4 linked regions of the Homo sapiens genome follow. The protein of the gene in region 1 interacts with the protein of each later gene in a biochemical or structural test. Each region holds a gene or a part of one and is shown on either strand. Other genes may lie near its edges.

Region 1 (3,739 bases):
ATGGGATTACAGGCATGAGCCACCATGCCCAGCCTATTTTTTATTTTTTAGAGATGACATCTTGCTATGTTGCCCAGGCTGCCCTCAAGCTCTTGGGTTCAAGCCATCCTCCACCTCAGCCTCCTGAGTAGCTGGGACTATAGCCATGTCCCATTGCCCTGCTTTGAAAGATTTTATGTCGTTTCAAGATAGCAGGCCAGGTGTGATGGCACACATCTATAATCTCAAGAATTTGGCAGGGCCACTTGAGGCCAGGAGTTCAAGACCAGCCTGGGCAACATAACAAGATCCCGTCTCTACAAAATATTTTACAAATTAGCTGGGTGTGGTGGTATGTTGAGTGTAGTCCCAGCTACTCAGGAGGCTGAGGGAGGAGAATGGCTTGGGCTCAGGAGTTCAAGGTTGAAGTGAGCTATGACTGTGCCACTGCACTCCAGCCCAGATGACAGAGCAAGACCTGGTCTAGAAAAAATAAAGTTTTCATTTAATGCACAACACAATAAATGAATGTTTTTGTTTAAAATGAAAAGTTTATTTGCTGAGTACACCAAATAGGATGCAAGCACTGTCATGACAAATATACAGAAATATGCAGATCAACATAAAACAGTAATTTAGTTTAAATGAAGGGAAATCTCTTTAAATGTTATGACAACATACTCCCAAGAAGAACCTTTTCTTCAGTTAAGTTAATTATACATTTCAATAAAATAAAGGATAATGGATTAGTGGAAGTTAGCTTGTGAATTTTTCTTAAAAATAAAACTCCAACTCTATTAATCCATGCCAGTTAAACACTATAACTAAAATTTCCAAATAAGCGCAAAAGGAGATGAAGCAGTTAGTTACCTTTTTTGCTTGAACAGTCCAAAGGAAAATGGTTACTATAAATACAGCAGGCAAACTGTTAGACTGACCTAGAACATAGTGTACTAAATTTCAGTCTCAAATTGTGCTAAATGCTCATCATTAGTATGGCACATTTGGTCCATGATGTGGTTTAATGCCAAGACAGATCCCAATTTGTTACAGAAACACATAGATTACTGTTGCTTTTTGTTTTTAAATACATATATTTTAAAAAGCCAGGTATACTTCCACATACAAAGGCAGGTTTCCCAGGAGAAATTTATAGGAAGTAGTCTGGGGTGCGCCGTGTAACATGAGGCTCACCACGACGAGGCGCTGGGTCAAATTGAAGGCTGTAAATGGCAAAAAAGGAAGCAAATAAAGGATCTGACTTTGCAAAGAAAACAAATGAATAAAGAACAAGACACTGTAGTAGAAACAGCAGTCCTGCTTTCCCACCATGACTACATCACTTACGGCTGGAATGGCCATGGGCAAATCACTGCAGATGCTCCCATTCCAACTAACTGCTTCATAGGGCTATGGTGAAAATTTAAGAAGACAGAATGTCTGGTTTGGTGCCTGGCATAACAATTTCTAAATGTTATTATTATTTAAAAGCTTAAATAATTAAAGATTAAATAATATCAAGTTTAAATAATTAAACAATAATTGTTTAATATTATTTAATAATAATAATAATATCACTTTTTTTTTTTTTTTTTTTGAGGCAGAGTCTTGCTCTGTCGCCCAGGCTGGAGTGCACTGGCACGATCTCGGCTTATTGCAAGCTCCGCCTCCTGGGTTCATACCATTCTCCTGCCTCAGCCTCCTGAGTAGCTGGGACTACAGGAACCCATTACCATGCCCGGCTAATTTTCTTATTTTTTTTTAGTAGAGACGGGGTTTCACCGTGTTAGCCAGGATGGTCTCATCTCCTGACCTCATGATCCACCCGCTTCGGCCTCCCAAAGTGCTGGGATTACAGGCGTGAGCCACCGCGCCAGGCCTAATATCACTATTTTCTTGAGTGTTTCTGGCTAGTGGATTTTTCCAATTATTTTTGTGCCTCTATTGAGATGATCATGTGTTTTTTAATCCCTTAATATTAATATGGTTTATTATATTGATTTTCATGTTTTGAACCAACCTAGCATTCCTGGGATAAATCCCACTTGCTCATGGTGTATAATCTTTTTACATATTGCTAGATCCAGGTTGCTGGTACGTATGTTGGAAAATTTTATATCTGTATTCGTAACAAATGCTGGTCTGTTTTTGCCTTTGTCTACTTTTGGTATCAAGGATAATAGTGCAGGTGTGACAGAATGAATGCAGTAGTCCTCCTCTTCTGTTTTTTGGAAGTGTTTGTGAAGGATTGGCATTAACTCGTTTTTATTTTTGAGACAGGGTCTCACTCTGTTGCCCAAGCTGGAGTGCAGTGGTGTGATCATGGCTCACTGTAGCCTCAACCTCCCTGGGCTCAGGTGATCCTCCCACTTCAGCTTCCTGAGTAGCTGAGACTATAGGCTGAGCCACCACACCAGGTTAATTTTTGTATTCTTTGTAGATACAGGGTTTTACCATGTTACCCAGGCTGATCTTGAATCCTGGGCTCAATCTGCCTGCCTTGGCTTCCCAAAGTGCTAGGATTACTGGTTAGAGCCACCGCACCTGGCCAATTCCTTTCTTTAAACATTTGGTGGACTTCATCAATGAAGCCAATTGGGCTTGGCCTTTTATTTGTGGGGAGTTTTAACTTTTTCACTCATTTATTTATATTCTTTTAAATTAAATAGGGACAAGGTCCTGCTATGTTGTCCAGGCTGGTCTCAAACTCCTAGTCTCAAGCAATCCTCTCAGCTTGGCCTCCCAAAGCTGGGATTTATAGGTGTGAGCCACCATGCTGGCTCAATATTTTCACATTTGAAAGGTCATTCAGATTTCATATTTCTTGAGTCAGTTTCAGTAGTTTCTTTTTAGGAATTAGTACGTTTTATCAAAGTTACTGAATTTGCTGGCATATAGTTATTTATTGTATTCCCTTATAATCCTTTTTATTTCAGTAAGGTCTCTAGTGATTTGGTAATGTGAGTCTTTACTCCTTTTTTTCTTGGCCAGTCTAGTTAAGGCTTTTCAAAGCATCAACTTTGGGTTTTGTTGATTTTTCTGTAATGATTTTCTACTGTTTGTTTATTTCTACTCTAAACCTCGTTTCATAAGCTTACATCAGGTTTAGTTTACTCTGCTTTTTCTAGGTCCTCAAGTATAAAGATAGGTTACTGATTTCAAATCTTCTTGTTTTTTTTTTTGTTTTTTTCTTTCTGAGACAGGGTCTTTGCTCTGTTGCCTAGGCTGTAGTGTAGTGCTGTGATCATAGCTCATTGCAGCCTTGATCAACTGGGCTCAAGTGATCCTCCATCTCAGCCTCCCATACAGCTGAGACTACAGGTGCTTGGCACCATACCTGGCTAATTTTTAAATTTTTTTGTAGAGACGGGGTCTCCCTATGTTGCCCAGGCTGGCCTCAAGTGATCCTCCTACTTTGGCTTCCCAAAGTGTTGGGATTACTTGTGTGAGCCACAGCATCCAGCCATGTTAATGATTTCTAATTTCATTTCCTTGTGTTTGGAGAATATCCTTTTAAGAATCTAATCTTCTTAAATTGCCTGAGGCATGTTTTACAGTCTAGCATATGACTATGTTTCATGTTTACTTGAGAGGAAAGTATTCTGCTGTTGTTGGGTGTTGTTTTACAGACATGAGGTATACAGTCAGTTTACAGTGTTGCTCAAGTCTTCTCCTGCCTTCATCTCCTGCCTAGTTGTTCTATCCAAGAGAAACAGTTTCTGTTGCTTAGTTTTTTCCTGTGTAGAGGTCACACTTCCTT
Region 2 (7,036 bases), on another chromosome or scaffold:
GGCTGAGGCACGAGAATCACTTGAACTTGGGAGGTAGAGGTTGCAGTACGCTGAGATCGTGCCACTGTGCTCCAGCCTGGATGACAGAGTAAGACTCCGTCCCCCACCCTCCGCCAAAAAAAAAAAAATGCCTTTTTTTATATGACAAAAGGAAGACTTACCCTCACCAATCCCAAATTTTTCTGTGATGCATTATCATAGATTGTAAAAACCACTAAGGTGCTAAATAAATTGGTTGGGTAAAATATTGGATTAAAGAAGCTCTTCTAATGAATATTTAAGGCACCTTAAAACCACAGGAGCTTCCTGTCTTCTCTCCTTGTAACTAGTTATACCTGTTTTTAAGTGGGAAGCTTGATGATGTTAGAAATAGGGCATTTTCAGGCCGGGCGCGGTGACTCACGCCTGTAATCCCAGCATTTTGGGAGACCGAGGCAGGTGGATCACCTGAGGTCAGGAGTTCGAGACCAGCCTGGCCAACATGGTGAAACCCTGTTTCTACTAAAAATACAAAAATTAGCCGGGCATGGTGGCACGTGCCTGTAATCCCAGCTCCTAGGAAGGCTGAAACAGGAGGATTGCTTGAATCTGGGAGGCGGAAGTTGCAGTGAGCCAAGATCGTGCCATTGCACTCCAACCTGGGCAACAGAGCGAGACTCCGTCTCAAAAAAAAAAGAGGGCATTTTGGCCTATGTTTAAGAAACTCTATATTTAGAACACTGAAGGACTGTAAATTAGTAACAGTGATTCTTTTACATATATGAGTGGAATATTTTATAGGACTGCCACATTTTTCCAGATATATTGGTTAGAATCCACAGACTCACATATTATTTCACATTTGGTATGCATTATTCAAGTTAAAACTTATTTTATGGAATCTTATGGAATATATATTCCAATTACAGTTTATTGTATCTAATCTTTTAAGTATTTAATATTTTCTATCTCCTAATAACAAAGAATAAATTTTACTTAAAATTATGATGAAAGTTAACATTGTTAGTCCTGAAGACCATTGTTAACATTGTGCAGTCCTGAAGACCTGCACCTCAAAGTTAGATCACTGATATGTGCACACAGAAATACACGTTTAGATGTAATAAATATACAATGTGTGTCCAGTTTTTTTCTTACTATTTTATCATAAGCATTTTTTCATATTATTATAGTCTCTCTTTAAACATTTGTAATGGTTCCATAATATTTCATCATATGGATATACTTTGGTTTGCATAATCATTTGTTGCTTTATAATGAAACATTCAGAGTATTTCTTTTTCATGATTATAAGTAAAGCCATTATAAGTATTAATGTGTATAATATTTTTCTGTACTTGGAATTATTCTTTAGTACAGGTATTCTAAAACTGATACTTTGGGTCATAAGTGTGTAAATTATGTTAAATTCCTGTGATTTTTTTTTTTTTTTGCTTGATTGTTGCCCCAGGGTGAAATGTAAATTGACACAATCCTTCTGAAAGTCTGTGTAGGCAAGTGCTGAGTTCCCTCATCAGTGTCAGGTGCTTTTGCTTTTTTCATCACCACGTTTTGAAACTTTTAACAATTGAGAATTTTAATGGAAAAATTATTTTCCTACAAGAGACAGTATCTTTAATTGCTTTGCTATCTTTTCTTCATACCCTCATGATATATATTATAGTAATATCTGTGTGCTATATATTATAGTAGTATAATAAGCTATTATATTACGTATTTGTATATTTATCTTATTTAGCCCACTACTTAGTACAGTGCCATATGATGATGAAAGAATGGATGATGAAAGCATTTTATAGACCTTGCAAATATATCATATTGATTAAATCATGTGCTGTGTAACTCATTCAGCAAGTAGGAAGAATTCTGTTGGGATGGAAAAGAAACAAAAATGCCAACAGCGATATAAAATTATCTCACCCGACTTTTGGTTACGTATAGATTAGCCGATGAATTACATATGCCATCTCTCCCTGAAATGATGTTTGGAGACAACGTTTTAAGAATCCAGCATGGGTCTGGCTTTGGAATTGAGTTCAATGCTACAGATGCGTTAAGATGTGTAAACAACTACCAAGGAATGCTTAAAGTGGCCTGTGCTGAAGAGTGGCAAGAAAGCAGGTGAGAATCCGGTCAATTAGGTTAAACAAAAAAGGTAATTAGGTTAAACAAAAGAGAAAAGACTTGAAAAAATATTCAGTAATGATACGTGTGTGTTGTTAGAATGAAGGGCTGGTATTATTAAACTTGAGAGTTGTATCATTCTAGAATTCGTTTTTCTCAGACATAAAAATGGAAGTTAATTACCCCACTGCTTGAATACTTGTTAAAGTGAATTACAACTGAGCTGAGCTATGTACGTTTTCGATTTTTCAGTGTTCCTTACTGAAGAGGCAGTAGGCTATACTTAATGTTCCTGTTTTTAAGAAAAAATGTTTACTTATGATATGCTTAATAAATACCCTATTTGAGAAGCATTGAAATTAAGACAACATGTTTTTCTTTGATAGTCAAATCAGCAATTATTTACTTTGTGCCTAATATGTACTAAGTACCTTAGATGATACAAATAAGTATAAACCTTTAAACCATGTCCTCAGGCTGTATACAGACTAATTGAAAAGACTACATCAGTACATGACAAGTTAAATAATAAATGCAGAAAAACTGTAAGAAAAACCTTGTACTGGTGAATTATAACAAGTGTATATATTTAATAGGATATGTTATTATAGAATATAATTTGATGTGATATATAAATACAGATAATCTCTATTCTGCATCACTGAATCTGATCCTTCTCATTTTGGTATTTGAGGACGGAGGGTGAACACTCCAAAGAGGTTATTAAACCATATGATTGGACCTATACAACAGATTATAAGGGAACCTTACTTGGAGAATCTCTTAAGTTAAAGGTAAATCTTACTTTTTTCTTTCATGAGTCATTGATTGTCTTGGACAGTCTGAGCATTAGAACTTTCTAGTAACGGGTTATTTTTTGCAACTATTTTTATCGTCCTTGTTTTCTGTTGTGGCATTCCTCAGAACCTAATGTGAGGGGGTTTTGCTTGTTGACTTATCAGTAGAAAATAAAAGACGGCATTAGTGGAAAAATTTATTTTTAAAAGTGTAGTTGGTGGCAACGGCAGACGGCCTTGTTGTTATCATTATCACTATCAAGAAACATTAAAATGTGTTTCGGGCCTTGGTAATGTATTACATGATTTAGACAGAACCTGCTAGCTTGTAGCTCACAAGTTTATAGATGAACAAATATATGAGCAAAAAGAACTTCTGGTTAGACAAAGTAGGTTTATGCCCTGTCTGCCCTGAGTATGAACCTGAAATGACTTTAGGAAGTTACTTAATTTGAGTCTCAGTTTTATCAATAAATTGGGTAAACAGAAATATCTACCTCAAAGCAGAGTTTTGATGTGAAATAATTTATGGGAAGCTCTCAATAAATTCTAAAGCTCTATATTAGTATTAAGTCCTGTGTGTGTAAGCCCTGCTTGAGAAGAGATTGGGGCCAGGCGCAGTGGCTCACGCCTGTAATCCCAGCACTTTGAGAGGCCGAGGCAGGCAGATCACGAGGTCAGGAGCTCGAGACTAGCCTGACCAACATGGTGAAACCCCTTGTCTATTAAAAAAAAAAAATTAGCTGGGTGTGGTGGCGCACACCTGTAATACCAGCTACTCAGGAGGCTGAGGGAGGAGAATTGCTTGAACCCGGGAGGTGGAGGTTGCAGTGGGCCAAGATCGCGCCACTGCACTCCAGCCTGGGTGACAGAGTGAGACTCTGTCTCAAAAAAAAAAAAAAAGAAGAGATTCGGCCAGGTGCAGTGGCTCACGCCTGTAATCCCAGCACTTTGGGAGGCCAAAGTGGGTGGATCATGAAGTCAGGAGTTCAACACCAGCCTGGTCAACATGGTGAAACCCCATCTCTACTAAAAATACAAAATTTAGCCAGGCATGGTGGAGCATGCCTGTAGTCCCAGCTACTCGGGAGGCTGAGGCAGGAGAATTGCTTGAACCCGGGAGGCAGAGGTTGCAGTGAGCTGAGATCACACTACTGCACTCCAGCCTGGGCGACAGAGCGAGACTCCGTCTCAAAAAAAAAAAAAAAAAAAAAAAAAAAAAGAGAGAGATTCATGGTAAATAACGCTAGGAAGATGGAATTGGTAGGTCTTATATTGTGAAGTTAGCTGCATTTTGAAATCTTATAGTATGACTGAAAGGAAGCAAATCTGGGCTGGGCTCAATGGCTCACGCCTGTAATCCCAGCACTTTGCGAGGCCAAGGAGGGCAGATTACTTGAGGTCAGGAGTTCGAGACCAGCTTGGCCAACATAGTGAGACCGCACCTCTACTAAAAATGTAAAAATTAGCCAGGCCTGGTGGCGTGTGTCTGTAATCCCAGCTACTTGGGAGGTTGAGGCAGGAGAATCACTTGAACCCAGGAGGTAGAGGTTGCAGTGATCCGAGATCACGCCACTGCACTCTAGCCTGGGCAACAGAGAAAGGCTCTGTTTCAGAAAAACAATAAGTAAAATAAAATAAAGCAAATTTGGTTTAGGTTGAATGTCTCTAAATATCACAGACTATTATATAGAATGAATTTATTTCAGCGTAACCTGAAATATTTATATTAAAAGTAGCTATTGGAAACCCTATGTCATCCGGGCACAGTGGTTCACACCTGTAATCCCAGCACTTTGGGAGGCCGAGGCAGGCAGATCACCTGAGGTTAGGAGCTGGAGACTGGGGAGGCTGAGGCAGGAGAATTGCTTGAACCCAGGAGGCAGAGTTGCAGTGAGCCAAGATCACGCCACAGTGCTCCAACCTGGGCTTCAGAGTGAGACTCCATCTCAAAACAAGGAAACCTGATATCATATGTTGGTGCTTAGGCAGAAATGTTAAGAAGATAGTGTTGTGTCTGGGCCCCTTTTCTCTGCAGAAATTTTTAGAGTCTCATGAAGATAAAAGTTCATAGCAGGAACTTAATGATTGTTATCTTCAGTTTCTGCTATTATTACAGTCCAAGCTTTAACTATTTTTCTGTGCTTCCAGGAAAAAACTCATTCATTCATTCAACAGATATTTCTTGAGCTCTTGCTCTATGCCAGGCACTAATGCTAGGAGCCTTGGATACAGCAGAGCAGACAAAAATTCCTCCTTTACAGTCTAATGGGAGAGCAAGGTTATTTTAGTCCCTTATACTACTTCATAGATTAGTGTTCTCCTCCCTCCTCTCTTCTGATTGAAAAACTTTGTAGAGACCATTTAATATTTCATTGCCAGGAGTGAGGAAATGGGAACTTGTTTTAAACCCATACAATAATGATGATGACTTACTTTGTGGACTGACTTAGGAAAAGCCTCCTGGAGGTTATGAAGCAGCATTAGGTGTGACCAAGTGAGAACCACAGCTGTACAAACAAGGAGTGTGAGAGTAGTAGAAGGCAAAAAGCATTTGTTCAGTACTCTCCTATTGATACTTCAGCCTATAATGTGATTTGTTCTGAGGTGTTGCTGATAAATGTCAATGTGATTACCCACTCACTGGTGGTAATGAGCTCAGGCTTTGGCAAAACACAGATCTGGGTTCAAAATCCCAGCACCATCATTTGCCAGCTTGGAAAAGTAATTTAGTCTTACTTAGCCTTGTTTCAGTCACTTTGTTAAACTAGGGTAATACTAGTTGTGAAGTAGGAAATAAAATTATGTATGTAGGCTGGGTGTAGTGGCTCATGCCTGTAGTCCCAGCACTTTGGGAGGCTGAGATGGATCACTTGAGCTCAGGAGTTCAAGACCAGTCTGGGCAACATGGTGAAACCCCATCTCTACAAAAAATAGAAAAATTGGCGGGTCTGGTGGCACGTGTCTATAGTCCCAGCTACTCAGGAGGCTGAGGTGGGAGAATCAGTTGAGCCCAGGAAGGCGAGGCTGCAGTGAGCTGTGATTGTGCCACTGTACTCCAGCCTGGGTGACAGAGCGACACCCTATCTCAAAACAGTGTGTGTTTTGCAGTAAGATCTCAATAAATGGCAGCTGTTACTATGATAATATAGTATATCAAGTATTAGGGAACCTAAGTTAATATTGTAATACCTAGAATAAAAGTAGATATATTATCTATGGTATATTATTATATTAAATAGCAGCCCAAATGGACTAAGGCCTAATAATTTCAATCACCTCTGGAATCCCTAGTGTCTTTTATTTCAGTTGGTTCTGGGTTATGACATCTAGGCTTCTAATTTGCCTCTTTATTTTCATTTCAGTTCTAGGATGATGGTGTTTTCCTTCAGAGAGGATTTTTGTTTAGTTCTGACAGGCGCTCGAGAATATTCATAGTCAAGGACAGAGCTCTGCAAACTTCTTCTGTAAAGAGTCAGACGTAAATATTTTAGGCTTTGTGGGCCTTAGAGTCTCTGTTGCAGCAACTCAGCTGTGCTATCATAGTCTAAATCACTCATAGACAATATATAAATGAATGGGCATGGCTATGCTTTAATAAAACTTTATGGACAGTGAAATTTGAATTTCATGTAATTTTTATGTGTCATGAAATATTTTTCTTTTGATTTTTTTTCTCCAATTATTTAGCCATTATTAGCTTGCAGCCCATAAAAATAGGTAACAGGGCAGATGTGAGCTGCATGTCTTAGTTTGCCTGCCTTGGTCTAGGACCAGAGTTTGAGGTGTACTGGGCCTGCAGATAAGAAGCTCTGAGGCTGGGCACAGTGGCTCATACCTGAATCCCAATACTTTAGGAGGCCGAGGCAGGCGGAACACCTGAGGTCAGGAGTTCGAGACCAGCCTGGCCAACATGGCAAAACCCTGTATCTACTAAAAACACAAAAAAATTAGCCAAGCGTTGTGGCATGTGTGTGTAATCCTCGCTACTTGGGAGGCTGAGGCACAAGAATTGGTTGAACCCAGGAGCTGGAGGTTGCAGTGAACTGAAATGGTGCCACTGCATTCCAGCCTGGGCAACAGAGCGAGACTCTGTCTCAAGAAAAAAAAAAAAA
Region 3 (7,036 bases), on another chromosome or scaffold:
GCAACACGGCGAAACCCCGTCTCTACAAGAAATAAAAAAAATATAGCCCGGTGCGGTGGCATGTGCCTGTAATCCCAGCTACTCAGGTGGCTGAGGCAGGAGAATCCCTTGAGCCAGGAGGTAGAGGTTGCAGTGAGCCAAGATCGCGCCACTGCACTCCATCCTGGGGGACAGAGCAAGATGCTGTTTCACGCTATTTCATTAAAAAAAAAAAAGTTAGCTTTAATTATTAGATGATTTGTTACCTATCAGAAAAATACATAGATGCCTTTAGACACAATTTTACATTCTTACATTCTTATGTGTGCCTTCTTTTTTTTTTTCAAGATGGAGTCTCACTCTGTCGCCCAGGCTGGAGTGCAGTGGCGCAATCTGGGCTCACTGCAACTTCCGCCATCTGGGTTCAAGTGATTCTCCTGCCTCAGCCTCCTGAGTAGCTGGGACTACAGGCACGCAACCACGCCTGGCTACTTTTTTGTATTTTTAGTATAGACAGGGTTTCACCATATTGGCCAGGCCGGTCTCGATCTCCTCAGGTGATCCACCCGCCTCAGCCTCCCAAAGTGCTGGGATTACAGGCGTGAGCCACCGCACCCAGCTTTCCGCCCCGCCCCCCCGCCGAGATAGAGTCTTGCTCTGTTACCCAGGCTGGAGTGCAGTGGCGTGATCTCAGCTCACTGCAACCTCCACCTCCTGGGTTCAAGCGATTCTCCTGGCTCACTCAGCCTCCTGAGTAGCTGGGACTACAGGCGCATACCACCACACCCTGCTAATTTTGTATTATTGGTAGAGATGGGGTTTCACTATGTTGGCCAGGCTGATCTCGAACTCCTGATCTCAGGTGACCCGTCTGCCTCAGCCTTTCAAAGTGCTGGGGTTACAGGCATGAGCCACTGTGCCTGGCCTATAAGGCCATGTACATTCTTATTTCAGGGAGTTTCACAAAATTCCTGAAGCTCTACCCTAGACTCCACATTAGGAAACAAACAAACAAACAAAAAGCCTTTATACATGCTGTTAACTATGAGCTATTAAACCATATTTCTAGCAGGGGAAGCTACCTCAGCCCTAGATTTGAGACTTGGTTCTGCCACATACCTGTTATATGAACTTAGACAAGCAACTTAACCCATGTGAGTCTTAGCTTCCTGTACTGTAAAATTGGGATTAGACTTGTTATGAAGGTTAAATGCACTGATGCATGTAAGCCTGGGCACAGTGCCTGGCACATAGTAAGAACTCAGAAAATCCTGGCTATTGATGATGAATGGCATCTAGGCTTTAAAACAGTAGGGGTGGGGTGATGATTGCTTCATCTGGGTAACTACATTCCACCCAGGCCCTGAGGTCAAACTACAGTCCAAGGTCCCAAAGGGCTGGGGAGCAGAGGGTAGAAATAGAGGCTTGAGCAGGGGTGGAGTAAACTTGGCTGCTTCTGCTGACCAGCCCATGCAGGCTCTGGAGGTCCTCCTGCTGCTACGGATTGTCTCTGAGAGACTGAAGGACCACTCGAAGGCAGCTGGCTCCTCCTGCCACATCACCCAGCTCCTCCTGACCCTCGGCTGTCCCAGCTATGCCCAGGTGAGTGCCCAACCAGCCTAGTCTGGGGACTGCAGGGGGCCCGTAGCTTTAGAGGCCCACCTCTGAGAAGACAGGATATCAAAGGGGCAGCTTCTCGGCCTTTTACCACCACAACTGGCTGGAGAATTGTGGAGTGTGGAGCAGTTGGAGGCAGCTGTAAGAAGGGGAGTCATCTTTGTCCTTCCTGCAAAACCAGTTGTTCATTAAGTTTACAGACTGCTGCAGGAACCTACCGCCAGTCTTGTATTTCCTAACTGGTTCTGTTGCCCTAGTTGATGCTTCATTGCTCATGTAAAGCTATCACAGTGTCTCCTGGTTGGTCTCCTTGCCTCCAGTTTCTCCCTTTTCTACTTCGTCTTCTTAACGACCACTGGTAGGCACAGGTGTGATGTAATCTCTTTCCTGCTTAACCCTGTTCCCTTTTGCCCCAATAATACTTGCCAGCGCTTACGGCTGCAGTGTTTACCCCTGGATAACTTTGCCACAAAATATCTCACTCTTACTATTTTTGCATCACTCTAGTATATTGACTTTGGAAACAGAAGACATCATTCTGTTTATAGCATTCTGTTTTTAGTGGTGTCATTTCCATTTCCATTTCCATTTCCACTTCCACGTCACCCTCCCGAGTAACTGGGACTACAGGTACATGCCACCACACCTGGCTAATTTTTAAATGTTTTGTAGAGACAGAGTCTCACTATGTTGCCCAGGCTGGTCTTGAACTCCTGGGCTCAAGTGATCTCCCACCTCAGCCTCCCAAAGTACTGATAATACAGGCATGAGCCACCGTGCCCAGCTACTGCTTACTCTGTATATAGCTTTAATCTAAAAGTGGTTAACCAGGCTGAGCGCAGTGGCTCACACGTGTAATCCCAGCATTTTGGGAGGCTGAGGTGGGCAGATCACCTGAGGTCAGGAGTTGGAGACCAGCCTGACCAACATGGAGAAACCCCGTCTCTACTAAAAATACAAAATTAGCCAGGTATGGTGGCGCATGCCCGTAATCCCAGCTACCTGGGAGGCTGAGACAGGAGAGCACTTGATCCCGGGAGGCGGAGGTTGCGGTGAGCTGAGATCACACCATTGCACTCCAGCCTGGGCAACAAGAGCGAAACTCCGTCCTAAAAAAAAAAAAGTGGTTAACCAAGTGTTAAATGGACATTTTAGAGAGTGAATCAATAACTCCTATGCAGATTATAATATCTGAAATAATGTAATATTTATTGGACATGTTGAACATTTTGCTTGTAAATACTTTACTCCACTTTTTTTTTTTTTTTTTTTTTGAGACGGAGTCTCACTCTGTTGCCCAGGCTGGAGTGCAGTGGCGCGATCTCCATTCACTGCAACCTCTGCCTCTCGGGTTCAAGTGATTCTCATGCCTCAGCCTCCCGAGTAGCTGGGATTACAGGCGCGTGCCACCACACCTGGCTAATTTTTGTATTTTTAGTAGAGATGGGGGTGTCACCATGTTGGCCAGGCTGGTCTTGAACTCCTGACCTCAGGTGATCCGCCCACCTTGGCCTCCCAAAGTGCTGGGATTACAGGTGTGAGCCACATGGCCACCCTTATTTACTCCAGTTTTGTTTGAAGAGCCTGGCTGCCTTTCCTCATGTGCCCTCTGATTGCTTCCTTAGTTACACCTGGAAGAGGCAGCATCGAGCCTGAAGCATCTCGATCAGACTACTGACACATACCTGCTCCTTTCCCTGACCTGTGATCTGCTTCGAAGTCAACTCTACTGGACTCACCAGAAGGTATTTCTCACTTTCTTAAACTCCGAAGGCCCTGGGTATTAGAAAGAATTTAGGATTTTCTTGATATTTGCCTGGCTTTTGAGATTTCCCTGGAGCTAGGCAGTATGTTCCTGACCCTGAGAGGCAGGCATATTTCCTAGCCTTGCCCTCGCCAGCGATTTGCTCACCAGTCCTCCTCTGGTAGAGATACAGTCCTTTTCCTTCTTCAGGGGCAAGGGGGAAAGTCTGTCCTGTGACGAAAAGCTGGGACAATGGTGATCCTGGGAAGGCATGGGAGCTCTGGACTAGAAATCCAGGGGATGGCAAAGACTTGAGTTTTCTCCCAAACTAGTTGTGTGACTTGGGCACGTCTTCTACCTTCTCATGCTCTAGTTTCTTCTCTACGTTTTTATCATTCCTAAATTGGCGGACAAGTCACTGGTGAGGGCAAAGCTAGGAACTGTTACTGCTTCTCAGGGTCAGGAACATTCTGCCTAGGTCCAGGGAGATCTCGAAAGCCAGGCAAATATTCAGAAAATTCTAAAATCTTTCTAATACCCAGGGCCTTCAGGGATGGGGCCACGTAATCTCCAGGGCCTCTCAAGCTCTGGAGTGCCTGACTGCCTTACTGCCTCCTCTGGCTCCTTCTCTCCTTCAGGTGACCAAGGGTGTCTCTCTGCTGCTGTCTGTGCTTCGGGATCCTGCCCTCCAGAAGTCCTCCAAGGCTTGGTACTTGCTGCGTGTCCAGGTCCTGCAGCTGGTGGCAGCTTACCTTAGCCTCCCGTCAAACAACCTCTCACACTCCCTGTGGGAGCAGCTCTGTGCCCAAGGTGAAAGAATAGGGTGGATGGCCCCCCTTGGATGACATGTATGGTCTGTCTGCTGTCAGCTCTTCTCAAACCTCATCCCCTCTGCTGGCTAACTATGTGGCCCAGCCTACCTAGAACCTGCACAGAGTAGGCCTGGGATAGCAGATGGGTTTCAGTTTGCCTGCTGACTCTAAACAATTGGTGACTGCCTGGAATACTAGGCTGAAAGGATTTTTTTTTCTTTTCTTTTTTTTCTAAGACGGAGTTTCGCTGTTGTCACCCAGGCTGGAGTGCAATGGTGCAATCTCAGCTCACTGCAACCTCTGCCTCCTGGGTTCAAACGATTCTCCTGCCTCAACCTCCTGAGTAGCTGGGATTACTGGCATGCGCCACTACGCCCGACTAATTTTTGTATTATTAGTAGAGGTGGGGTTTCACCATGTTGGCCAGGCTGGTCTCAAACTCCTGACCTCGGGTGATCCGTCTGCCTCAGCCTCCCAAAATGCTGGGATTACAGGCTTGGGCCACTGCGCCCAGCCAGCTGAAAGGATTCTGAGACCCCAGGGGATCTCAGAGGGAAGGAGTTATGAGATTGATTAGCTCTGCCTGCCTTAATGCAGAAGGAAGCATGGGAAGCAGGCTTTGCTGCCTTAGTAGCTAAAAGTGGTGAAGTTCTGGCTGCATCTTCTCCCTTTTTCACCCCACCCACCACAGGCTGGCAGACACCTGAGATAGCTCTCATAGACTCCCATAAGCTCCTCCGAAGCATCATCCTCCTGCTGATGGGCAGTGACATTCTCTCAACTCAGAAAGCAGCTGTGGAGACATCGTTTTTGGACTATGGTGAGTCTGGGGAGGACAGCAGGGCCCTCTTGGAATGGACAGGCTATGTGAGAGGGCTGCGGTTTTTTCTCCAGAGGATCCACACTGTGGCTGAGTGATGGTGGTCTTGTCTCTTTTGCTACAGGTGAAAATCTGGTACAAAAATGGCAGGTTCTTTCAGAGGTGCTGAGCTGCTCAGAGAAGCTGGTCTGCCACCTGGGCCGCCTGGGTAGTGTGAGTGAAGCCAAGGCCTTTTGCTTGGAGGCCCTAAAACTTACAACAAAGCTGCAGATACCACGCCAGTAAGTACAGGGCCAGAGGATATGGCAATGATGGCACCAAAGTGCCATGCACCCTTGAACATGGATTCCAAACTGTTCCACAGATTACATGCTATGTTTAGATACATTCGTGGAAAAAGGCATTCCACAGCTAAATAAGTGGGAAATGCTGAGTTAATCAAGGTTAGATGTTTTTATTTCCTGTAGGACTCTCGTGTCCTTCAGTATGCGGATGTGCCTTGCAAATCTCCAAAAGGGAGATCTAGTGTACAGTGTTTCCCTAAGAATGTTTTCCCACAGGATTCTTTTATTGAGGAATGCAGTTTGGGAAATCCTGTCCCAAGGCACAAGGAGAGTTGGGATTAGAGAGAAGTGTAGAGGGTTTTCCCCAGGGAGCCTTTAAGTCAGCTTAAGGGAGTGAATGCCTTTTGGAGGCAGGGAAGGACTCAGGTAGCTTGGCCTGGGAAAGAGGCAAAGAGAAAGACTCTCCAGGAAAACAAAGGATTCCTCTGATTGGTTCTCCTCTCCTCTCTCAACAAGGTGTGCCCTGTTCCTGGTGCTGAAGGGCGAGCTGGAGCTGGCCCGCAATGACATTGATCTCTGTCAGTCGGACCTGCAGCAGGTTCTGTTCTTGCTTGAGTCTTGCACAGGTGAGCAGCCATGTCCCCATGACCATAGGCGGTGCTGAAATGACACACACTACAGCACATCTTTCTATGTAAAGGTTTCGTTGCCTTTTTTTATTTTTGAGACAGAGTCTCACTTTATTACCCAGGCTGGAGTGCAGTGGCGTGATCTTGGCTCACTGCAACCCCTGCCTCCTGCCTCCTAGGTTCAGGTGATTCTCCTGCTTCAGCCTCCCAAGTAGCTGGGACTACAGGCATGCGCCACCACACCCGGATAATTTTTTTTATTTGTAGTAGAGATGAGGTTTCACTATGTTGGCCAGGCTGGTCTCGAACTCCTGACCTCAGGTGATCCACCCGCCTCGGCCTCCTAAAGTGCTGGGATTACAGGCATGAGCCACCGCTCCCGGCCTTTGTTCCCTTTTTAATCAGATACTGACTTCTGGTCCCAGGGCAACATTCCCTTGACTTTAGTCCAACCATTGGTCTCCCTCTTTCAGAGAGCCTGTCCCAGACTTACCCTAGTTCTAGTTTTCAGTGCTTCCTAATACATTTTGGCTATTTAAATTTGATTTAGATAATATTTAGGGCCGGGCTCGGTGGCTCATGCCTGTAATCCTAGCACTTTGGGAGGCTGAGGCAGGCGGATCATGGGGTCAGGAGTTCAAGACCAGCCTGGCCAACAAAGTGAAACCCCATCTCTACTAATAATACAAAAATTAGCCAGGCATGGTGGCGGGCACCTGTAATCCCAGCTACTCAGAAGGCTGAGGCAGGAGAATAGCTTGAACCTGGGAGGCGGAGGTTGCAGTGAGGAAGATTGCACCATTGCACTCCAGCCCGGGTGACAGTGCGAGACTCTGACTCAAAAAAAAAAAAAAAAAGAAGAAAGAAAGAAAGAAAGATAATATTTAGAATTCAGTCCTCAGTCACACTAGCCACACTTCATGTGCTCAATAGCCACATGGCTAGTGGCTACCGTATTGAGTAGCACAAACATATCCTCAGGAGGGCTGAAGCTAATAATAAAACATTGCATTGATGGCACATTTTGTCTCCCCAATCACATATACTTCTAGTACTTCATTTGCCCCACACTAGACCTCATAAAGCTGAGTGGGAGCATAGATTATTTTCATTTGTTAAATGAGAAAGTTGAGAAGTCTATGTTTGGGGCC
Region 4 (7,036 bases), on another chromosome or scaffold:
CCCCGCTCCCGCTCCCCGGACCACCACCACCACCACCATTCGCAGTACCACTCCCTGCTCCCGCCCGGTGGCAAGCTGCCTCCCGCGGCCGCCTCGCCGGGCGCCTGCCCCCTCCTCGGGGGCAAAGGCTTTGTGACCAAGCAGACGACGAAGCATGTCCACCACCACTACATCCACCACCATGCCGTCCCCAAGACCAAGGAGGAGATCGAGGCGGAGGCCACGCAGCGGGTGCACTGCTTCTGCCCTGGGGGCAGCGAGTATTACTGCTACTCGAAATGCAAAAGCCACTCCAAGGCTCCGGAAACCATGCCCAGCGAGCAGTTTGGGTAAGTGCCGGGCGGACCGCAGTGTCCCGTGTGGGGCTTGTCTCCCAGCCAGGTCCATGGGCAGGTGTGAGGTGGGAGCCGCATTACAGGCATTTAGTTTCTAAGAGGGCGGCAGAGTGCACGGCCGGGTGAGGGTGCGGGGAGCAGGTGCATGGGTCTTTCGTGTCACCAGCCCCCCGACTTGCTGAATTGTCTGATTCTAGGAGTCCCGGAGATTTAACCGGGTCTCTGGGTTGGGTGTGGTTCTTGGTTCCCCACAGCGGCAGCAGAGGCAGTACCTTGCCCAAACGCAATGGGAAAGGCACGGAGCCGGGCCTGGCCCTGCCCGCCAGGGAAGGAGGGGCCCCCGGCGGAGCTGGGGCCCTGCAGCTTCCCCGGGAGGAAGGAGACAGGTCGCAGGATGTCTGGCAGTGGATGCTGGAGAGTGAGCGGCAGAGCAAGCCCAAGCCCCATAGGTAAACACCGCTTGCCGCCGCCGCGGCCGCGAGGGTCATGGGCACTCAGTACGGAGGTATTGTGGGAATGGCTGTTTTTGCAGTCCGCGGAATACAAATGTGACTATTTGCTCCTGCCATCTTAATATTAAACGTTGGACTGAGCAGACCACAAAAATGTCATGTTTTGGCACTGACCCCTGTTCATGTTATGGTAGTTTTTTTTTTAACTCTCTCTCTGAGCAGAATAGACAAGTTTCTATTGAAGTCACATTTTCCAGTTCTTCTAACCCAGTTTCTTTCCTTCTGTTTTCTCTCTGCTCATTCCTTGTTTAGTGCCCAAAGCACAAAAAAGGCCTACCCCTTGGAGTCTGCCCGCTCGTCTCCAGGCGAACGAGCCAGCCGGCACCATCTGTGGGGGGGCAACAGCGGGCACCCCCGCACCACCCCCCGTGCCCACCTGTTCACCCAGGACCCTGCGATGCCTCCCCTGACCCCACCCAACACGCTGGCTCAGCTGGAGGAGGCCTGTCGCAGGCTAGCTGAGGTGTCGAAGCCCCCAAAGCAGCGGTGAGTGGAAGTGAAGGGTCCTAGGTTGAGGCAGGGATTGGGTTTGGGTGGAGACCTGGTCTGTGGCTAATGGGGAGGGCCTCTCTTTCTGCCTGGGTCTCAAACCCTCCCATGAGAAGAAGAATTACTTATGGATGAGTAAGCTGCTGCTTTCCAGCTTCTAGAAATTGTTCCCTTCAGTTATGTTCATTCTACTAGAGTTAAGCCAGGATCTGTGAGGCAAGTCATGCCTAGAATTGGGAGAATGAATTTCAGCAATTGCTTACAAATCCCATTCCTTACAAATGTCTTGATTGTTTAAGGCTGGTTAGTTGAGTATATAAGAAGCTGTGAGATGGAGGATCAAGAGTCCTCAGCCCTTTGCTGGGGCTGAGAATGTCCCATCCTGGGCTCCCAGGGGGGCTTAGAATGGCTGTTCCAAGACGTCTTCCTGGCCTCTTCAGCCACTGTTAACCCAGGGTCTTGGTTGGGTCTCCGTAAGGATGGAAGTCGGGTTCGTGTCTCTTCAGGAGGCCAAATAGTAATTTTCTGTCTGCTTTTCAATTGCTCTGGGGACAACAGTGTACCTCTAAATCCCTCGCCCTGGCTGTGTCCTCAGGTGCTGTGTGGCCAGTCAGCAGAGGGACAGGAATCATTCGGCCACTGTTCAGACGGGAGCCACACCCTTCTCCAATCCAAGCCTGGCTCCAGAAGAGTGAGTGTCTTTACCTGACATTACTGAGATCTGCCGAGTGCTTTATGTTTCAGAATATTCGCTATCTGGAGTTTCATTTTCATGAAACTTTTTTTGGTTTTTAAAATCACTTTGATTTTAGCGCTAGTGATGAGGAACAGTAAACGTAGATGTTGCCATCCATGTCCTGCCGACAAATGCATCATAGCAAAAGTTTTTCTGGTCATACACAAATCAAAAGCTGGGACATGAAGCCATTAGCAGAAGTGTAGAAGGGACCTCAAATTCAGCTGGAAAAGTTGCCCCCATTCAACTTGCAATTTAGTAGTACTGGAAACATTTGTCACCCCTGAGCAGAAAGATCATTCTCCACTGTGGCAGAGGTGGAGGGGACCATCCTTGTGTTTTTGTTTGGAGAAGACAGAATATCTTCCCCCAAATTGGGCAGTGATTCTTTTTGTAAATTTAGTCTCTTTCAAAGTAGGTTGAGGAGCCTGCTCGTTTAATTACTGGATGGTGCAATTAAAAAGAAATCTGCTAAAGAGATCTAAAATGGTCTGTATCAAGTTTTCTTTCTTAGTGTCTTCATCCTGAGCAATGAGCAATGTTTGAAGTCCTCAATAGGCCACTGCCCTGGACCCTTTCATTGTTTCAATTGGTTGACCCTAAGTGTACCAGCTCTCTGGGTCTGGGCCAGCCACTTTTTTTTTTCTTTTTGAGACAGAGTCTCGCCCTGTTGCCCAGGCTGGAGTGCAGTGGCTTAATCTTGGCCCACTGCAGCCTCCGCCTCCTGGGTTCAGGCAGTTCTCCTGCCTCAGCCTCCCGAGTAGCTGGGATTGCAGGCGCCCACCACCACACCCAGCTCCTTTTTTGTATTGTTAGTAGAGACAGGGTTTCGCCATGTTGGCCAAGCTGGTCTCAAACTCCTGACCTCAAGTGATCCGCCCACCTCGGCCTCCCAAAGTGCTGGGATTACAGGCGTGAGCCACCACGCCCGGCCTAGCAGCCTTTTTTTCAAGCCATTCTACAAAATCTCAGAAGAAATGGGGAAATGGACATGACTGTGTGATAACCCCCATTAGTTGTTCTCATTCTGCTGGAATAAGGGGTGGGCTTTAGGCATTCTGAGATCATGCCATCCCAAAGGTGTCCTGCTCTGGGTTTGTCTCTTTAGCACTCTCCAATCCAGGTGAGACCCGGCATCTCTGTGATAATTTCTCTTCTCTCATCTTCTTGAGGAAGCACCCCATTTATGCCAGCCTGAAAGAGGCCGCCGTATACTTTCATTTGGTGGCGGTGGGGGAAATGATACCAATTTGTACAACCAAAAGGAAATCATCCTTTTCTGCATGCTGCATGCAGCACATGTGGGGTTGGACTGTGTGTCCCCCAGAGCTGCCTGACTCTGGGATGTGGGGCTCTGCCCCAGCCCCCACTTTGGGTTTACAATTGCAGCCCTAGTGTTTGGATACCCTGTCACTTATGCACATGTGCGCACGTGTGTGTTTGCTTTAGATGTGTGTCTGCTTTAAAATGCTAAACTTGTTCCATTCCATCTTATTTTCAGTCACAAAGAGCCAAAGAAACTGGCAGGTGTCCACGCGCTCCAGGCCAGTGAGTTGGTTGTCACTTACTTTTTCTGTGGGGAAGAAATTCCATACCGGAGGATGCTGAAGGCTCAGAGCTTGACCCTGGGCCACTTTAAAGAGCAGCTCAGCAAAAAGGGAAATTATAGGTAAGAGTCCTGTGGCTTTTTTCTGCTCTCAGTTTGTTTGCTCAGAACCAAGAGCCAGAGCCTGGAGCAGCTCCCCTGGCTGAGCAGACCTAGGTGGGGCAGGGTGGGAGGGGGCTCAGCAGGCGCTGGGGGAGGCTCCCTTCTCATTTCTTCTCTCCCCTCACCGCTAGCAGCAATAACGAAGCAGCAGCCGCAAGAGGGAGGCTGCGTGGAGGGTTCTCTGGGGGACCTGGCCAGGCTCTTTCCACCAGGTGAACCAGACTGAGGAGAGAAAAGGAGCAGCTGCTTGCACCGACAGGAGAGTGGGGCTCAGGCCACACTGCAGAGGCTTTACCTGCAATTGAGGGGCTTGTGGGCGAGTGGGGAGCAGGGAGCAAAAAGAGGGACAGGCACACTGATTAGGAGGGAGGGTCTGGAAGCGCCGCCCTACTGGCTTGAGTTTAGGAGAGACCCCCACATTGAAGGCTCCAAATAGTCAGGAACCATGCCTAGGAAAAGTCCCCCGTGTTTTTCTTACCCTGCCTTTCCACCTGAACAGCCTCCCTGGATTTTATGGGCCATTAGAAGCAGAGATGCGCCTTTGTCCATAACAAAGAAGGGGCTGGACCTGCGGGTGGGCACAGGGTGAATAGGGCAGTCTACTCCTCCTGTCCAGGCCTGGGCCCCGCTGCCTTCTCCCCTGCAGGGGCTTCAGGAAGGGAACTTCCTGGTCTCCTTACCTTGTCTGCAGAGTGGACGGAGGTGCCCTTGAGAAGGTCCATGCTGACTTTTTAGGGCCCTTGAGAGGGTTCAAGAGCTGAGGAGGATGAGGGCCAGCCCTAGGCCATTCCTTCTCTTGATCATTTCCCTCGTAAGGAGCAGGTGATGACTCTGCCTCAGTTCATCTGGAGTCCTCCCTTGCCCCTCTCCATGGCCTGCAGCCCAAGAGAATGTGTGGATTCTGCTCCAGTTCTGTCCCAGGTTTCCCAGGTTTAGGGCTCCAGGCTGGGACAAGGGTGAGACAGGGGCACCCTAGTTTAAGGAGGTGCTCACTCTGGGGTCTACACCCAAGACAGAGTTCCAACTCCTCAGCTGTGTGCTGTTGTCCCTGTGCCAGGACCACAGTCTATTCCCAGGTGTGAACCCGTTGCCGCCACCAGGGCCAGGGGTGTGAGTGGAAAACTCTGAATAGCACTTGGTAACCTGCCAGGTGGGCATGGGCTCCTGGACGGGGATGAGTCCACCTGCAGGGCTCTGAGACACCCTCCCCTCTAGAGCAGGCCTTGTATAGTTTTACCAGCCACCTTCATCTGGGAGTTAGTTTGGGCGGGGGCTCAAAGTGATTCTCTTTGGAGTGGGGAGGGGATGGAGGTTGGACTGAGCCCCTGGAGGTAACTGGCCAGCAGGGCGTGTTGCTGGGTCTGGATAGTCCCTTTTATACCTGGGCAGAGACAATTGTGAAAAGGTATCAAAGGGGTGGGGGAACAGGCCTGGCTGCTGCTGCTGCTGCTTTTATCTTGAAAAGACACAAGGTGAAACTAATGACACAAGTGTGTCCCTCTGGGGATTCATTTTGATCTTGGCTTTGTCTCGGCTGGACTTCGAGTGGAACTGCAGGTGACCTTGGAGAAGAGCCATGTGGCGCTGGCATAGGCTTGTGGGGAAAGTGCCTCCTTCAGCTGCTGTGGCCACATCTGGCTCTGATTTTTTTTTTTTCTCCCTGAGGCACAGTTAATAAGCCTGGCTTTGAAGCCCTGGCCTCCCCTTTAATGCACAAAGACTTGCACAAATGGTCAACTCTCCGATCCTCTCCAGTTCTTTCCTGAGTGGATCAGGCTGTGGGAAGGCCCTCCCAGCTGCCTTATCTCTGCAGGGCCTGAGCTAGACTCAGTGTCCTCCTGGGGTAGGACAGGGACACAGGGTGTCACGCCTCACCCTCCCAGCAGGGCTGGTGCTTCAACATCTCAATTTGTACAAATACATCCCCCCTTCAAAAAAATAAAAAAGACCCAGTGAGGTTGGGGCCGTGGAGCAGGGGTGGGAGGTGGGGGGGACCTGGGATGCGTTGAGTAATCTCAACATGGCAGGGGTTCAAAAAGCAAACAGTCCCTTCAGACGCGCCAGACGCTGTTGGTGCCAGATGTCAGAAGAAAGCAAAGTTTGCCACATGAAGCATGTTGCAGTGGAAAAGCCTGTTTCTTGGAGAAAATGAGGGCAGTGCAGTGTGTTTGAAGTCCTGGGGGTGGGGCTGAGAGAATGTGGCCTCTCTCCTCTCTGGAGGAGGTTGCAATTATGTAAAAGGTCGCTGCGTGTTTGCTCAGACATGCTGTGAAAGCCCAACTTGGTAAACCCTGGAGGGGTCGGAGCTGGGGCCAAAGGGGTCTGACGGAGGGTGGCGTTGGGATTTGAGCCTCTTATGTGGAGAAGTGACTTTTCCCCCCACTGTCCTGAGTCTCCTGTGCACAGAGCCCCTCCCCATTTTCTCACTGTCTCCTCTCACGCTCCCCCGAGAATTTTGACCCCTTGACATGACGTGTCTTCAGTGCTGCCTAGTCAGAGCCATGCCGTTGTTCACCCCACTGCATTAGCTGGGTCAGGAATGCTAAAAACAAAGAACCTTGACTAAACCCAGCTGTTCACTGTATTTAGCCTTATCTCCTACGAAAGTATTTGGCTTGCCTTTATTAAAGAGGGAAAAAATTGAGCTCTAACCAAGGGGAGTTAATTTTTTTTTTTTTAAAGGGAAAAGACAAAGCCCAACCATAACCCTGAGACACAATTAAATGCTTGAAAGGTTCTCCCATCCCCCCAGGGGACTGTGACCTTCCCTCTGTGAGTGGCCTTTATGGGCTGGAAATGACAGCTTGCAGGGGCAAGTTTAATCCCTCTGAGGGGTCTCCCTTGGCTGGGGACAGGGAAGGAAGAGGCCCTTGCTTAATTTCCTCGGAAGGGGTTTAGGGGTGGGCCTGGCCCAAGAGGACAGCAGTTGTTTCCGAATGTGGCACTCCTGAGAGGCCAGGCATTTGCATCTGTACAATTAAACAGCCTCAGAAGAAAGAACGCTGGGGAGGGATGAAAGGAGCCTTTAATCAACGGGCATAATAGAAGGGCCTTTGGTGTTTGACCCTGGAGGGATGGGATGGGAGAAGAGGCCTGGAAATGGGGAGAAGAGGGGAGGGCATCATGGGGCCAGTGCCGTCTGTTCGGCCCTGGGAAGCTGCGCTGGGCTGGCTTGCCTCCTGTGTGGCTGTGCCAGGGCCATCCAGGAGTGTTGCACTTGGGACCTGGAGGATGGGAAGGCCGAGAGGCCTTTGGA

The links.
Region 2: the proteins of PPP2CB (region 1) and TIPRL form a complex in vitro, tested with the Homo sapiens proteins (one study listed by BioGRID).
Region 3: the proteins of PPP2CB (region 1) and ESPL1 form a complex in vitro, tested with the Homo sapiens proteins (one study listed by BioGRID).
Region 4: the proteins of PPP2CB (region 1) and AXIN2 form a complex in vitro, tested with the Homo sapiens proteins (one study listed by IntAct).

What each region holds. Positions count from the first base shown.
Region 1 is NC_000008.11:30,785,106-30,788,844, forward strand, and holds the end of PPP2CB (serine/threonine-protein phosphatase 2A catalytic subunit beta isoform), read right to left. Parts: intron 1,203-3,739; coding exon 1,130-1,202; 3' UTR 511-1,129; downstream 1-510.
Region 2 is NC_000001.11:168,181,961-168,188,996, forward strand, and holds part of TIPRL (TIP41-like protein), read left to right. Parts: intron 1-1,941; coding exon 1,942-2,121; intron 2,122-2,818; coding exon 2,819-2,918; intron 2,919-7,036. UniProt on the Homo sapiens protein: May be a allosteric regulator of serine/threonine-protein phosphatase 2A (PP2A). Isoform 1 inhibits catalytic activity of the PP2A(D) core complex in vitro. The PP2A(C):TIPRL complex does not show phosphatase activity.
Region 3 is NC_000012.12:53,278,286-53,285,321, forward strand, and holds part of ESPL1 (separin), read left to right. Parts: intron 1-1,446; coding exon 1,447-1,581; intron 1,582-3,221; coding exon 3,222-3,341; intron 3,342-3,978; coding exon 3,979-4,150; intron 4,151-4,843; coding exon 4,844-4,972; intron 4,973-5,096; coding exon 5,097-5,253; intron 5,254-5,772; coding exon 5,773-5,882; intron 5,883-7,036. UniProt on the Homo sapiens protein: Caspase-like protease, which plays a central role in the chromosome segregation by cleaving the SCC1/RAD21 subunit of the cohesin complex at the onset of anaphase. During most of the cell cycle, it is inactivated by different mechanisms.
Region 4 is NC_000017.11:65,530,617-65,537,652, reverse strand, and holds part of AXIN2 (axin-2), read left to right. Parts: coding exon 1-329; intron 330-589; coding exon 590-784; intron 785-1,099; coding exon 1,100-1,333; intron 1,334-1,931; coding exon 1,932-2,027; intron 2,028-3,573; coding exon 3,574-3,741; intron 3,742-7,036. UniProt on the Homo sapiens protein: Inhibitor of the Wnt signaling pathway. Down-regulates beta-catenin. Probably facilitate the phosphorylation of beta-catenin and APC by GSK3B.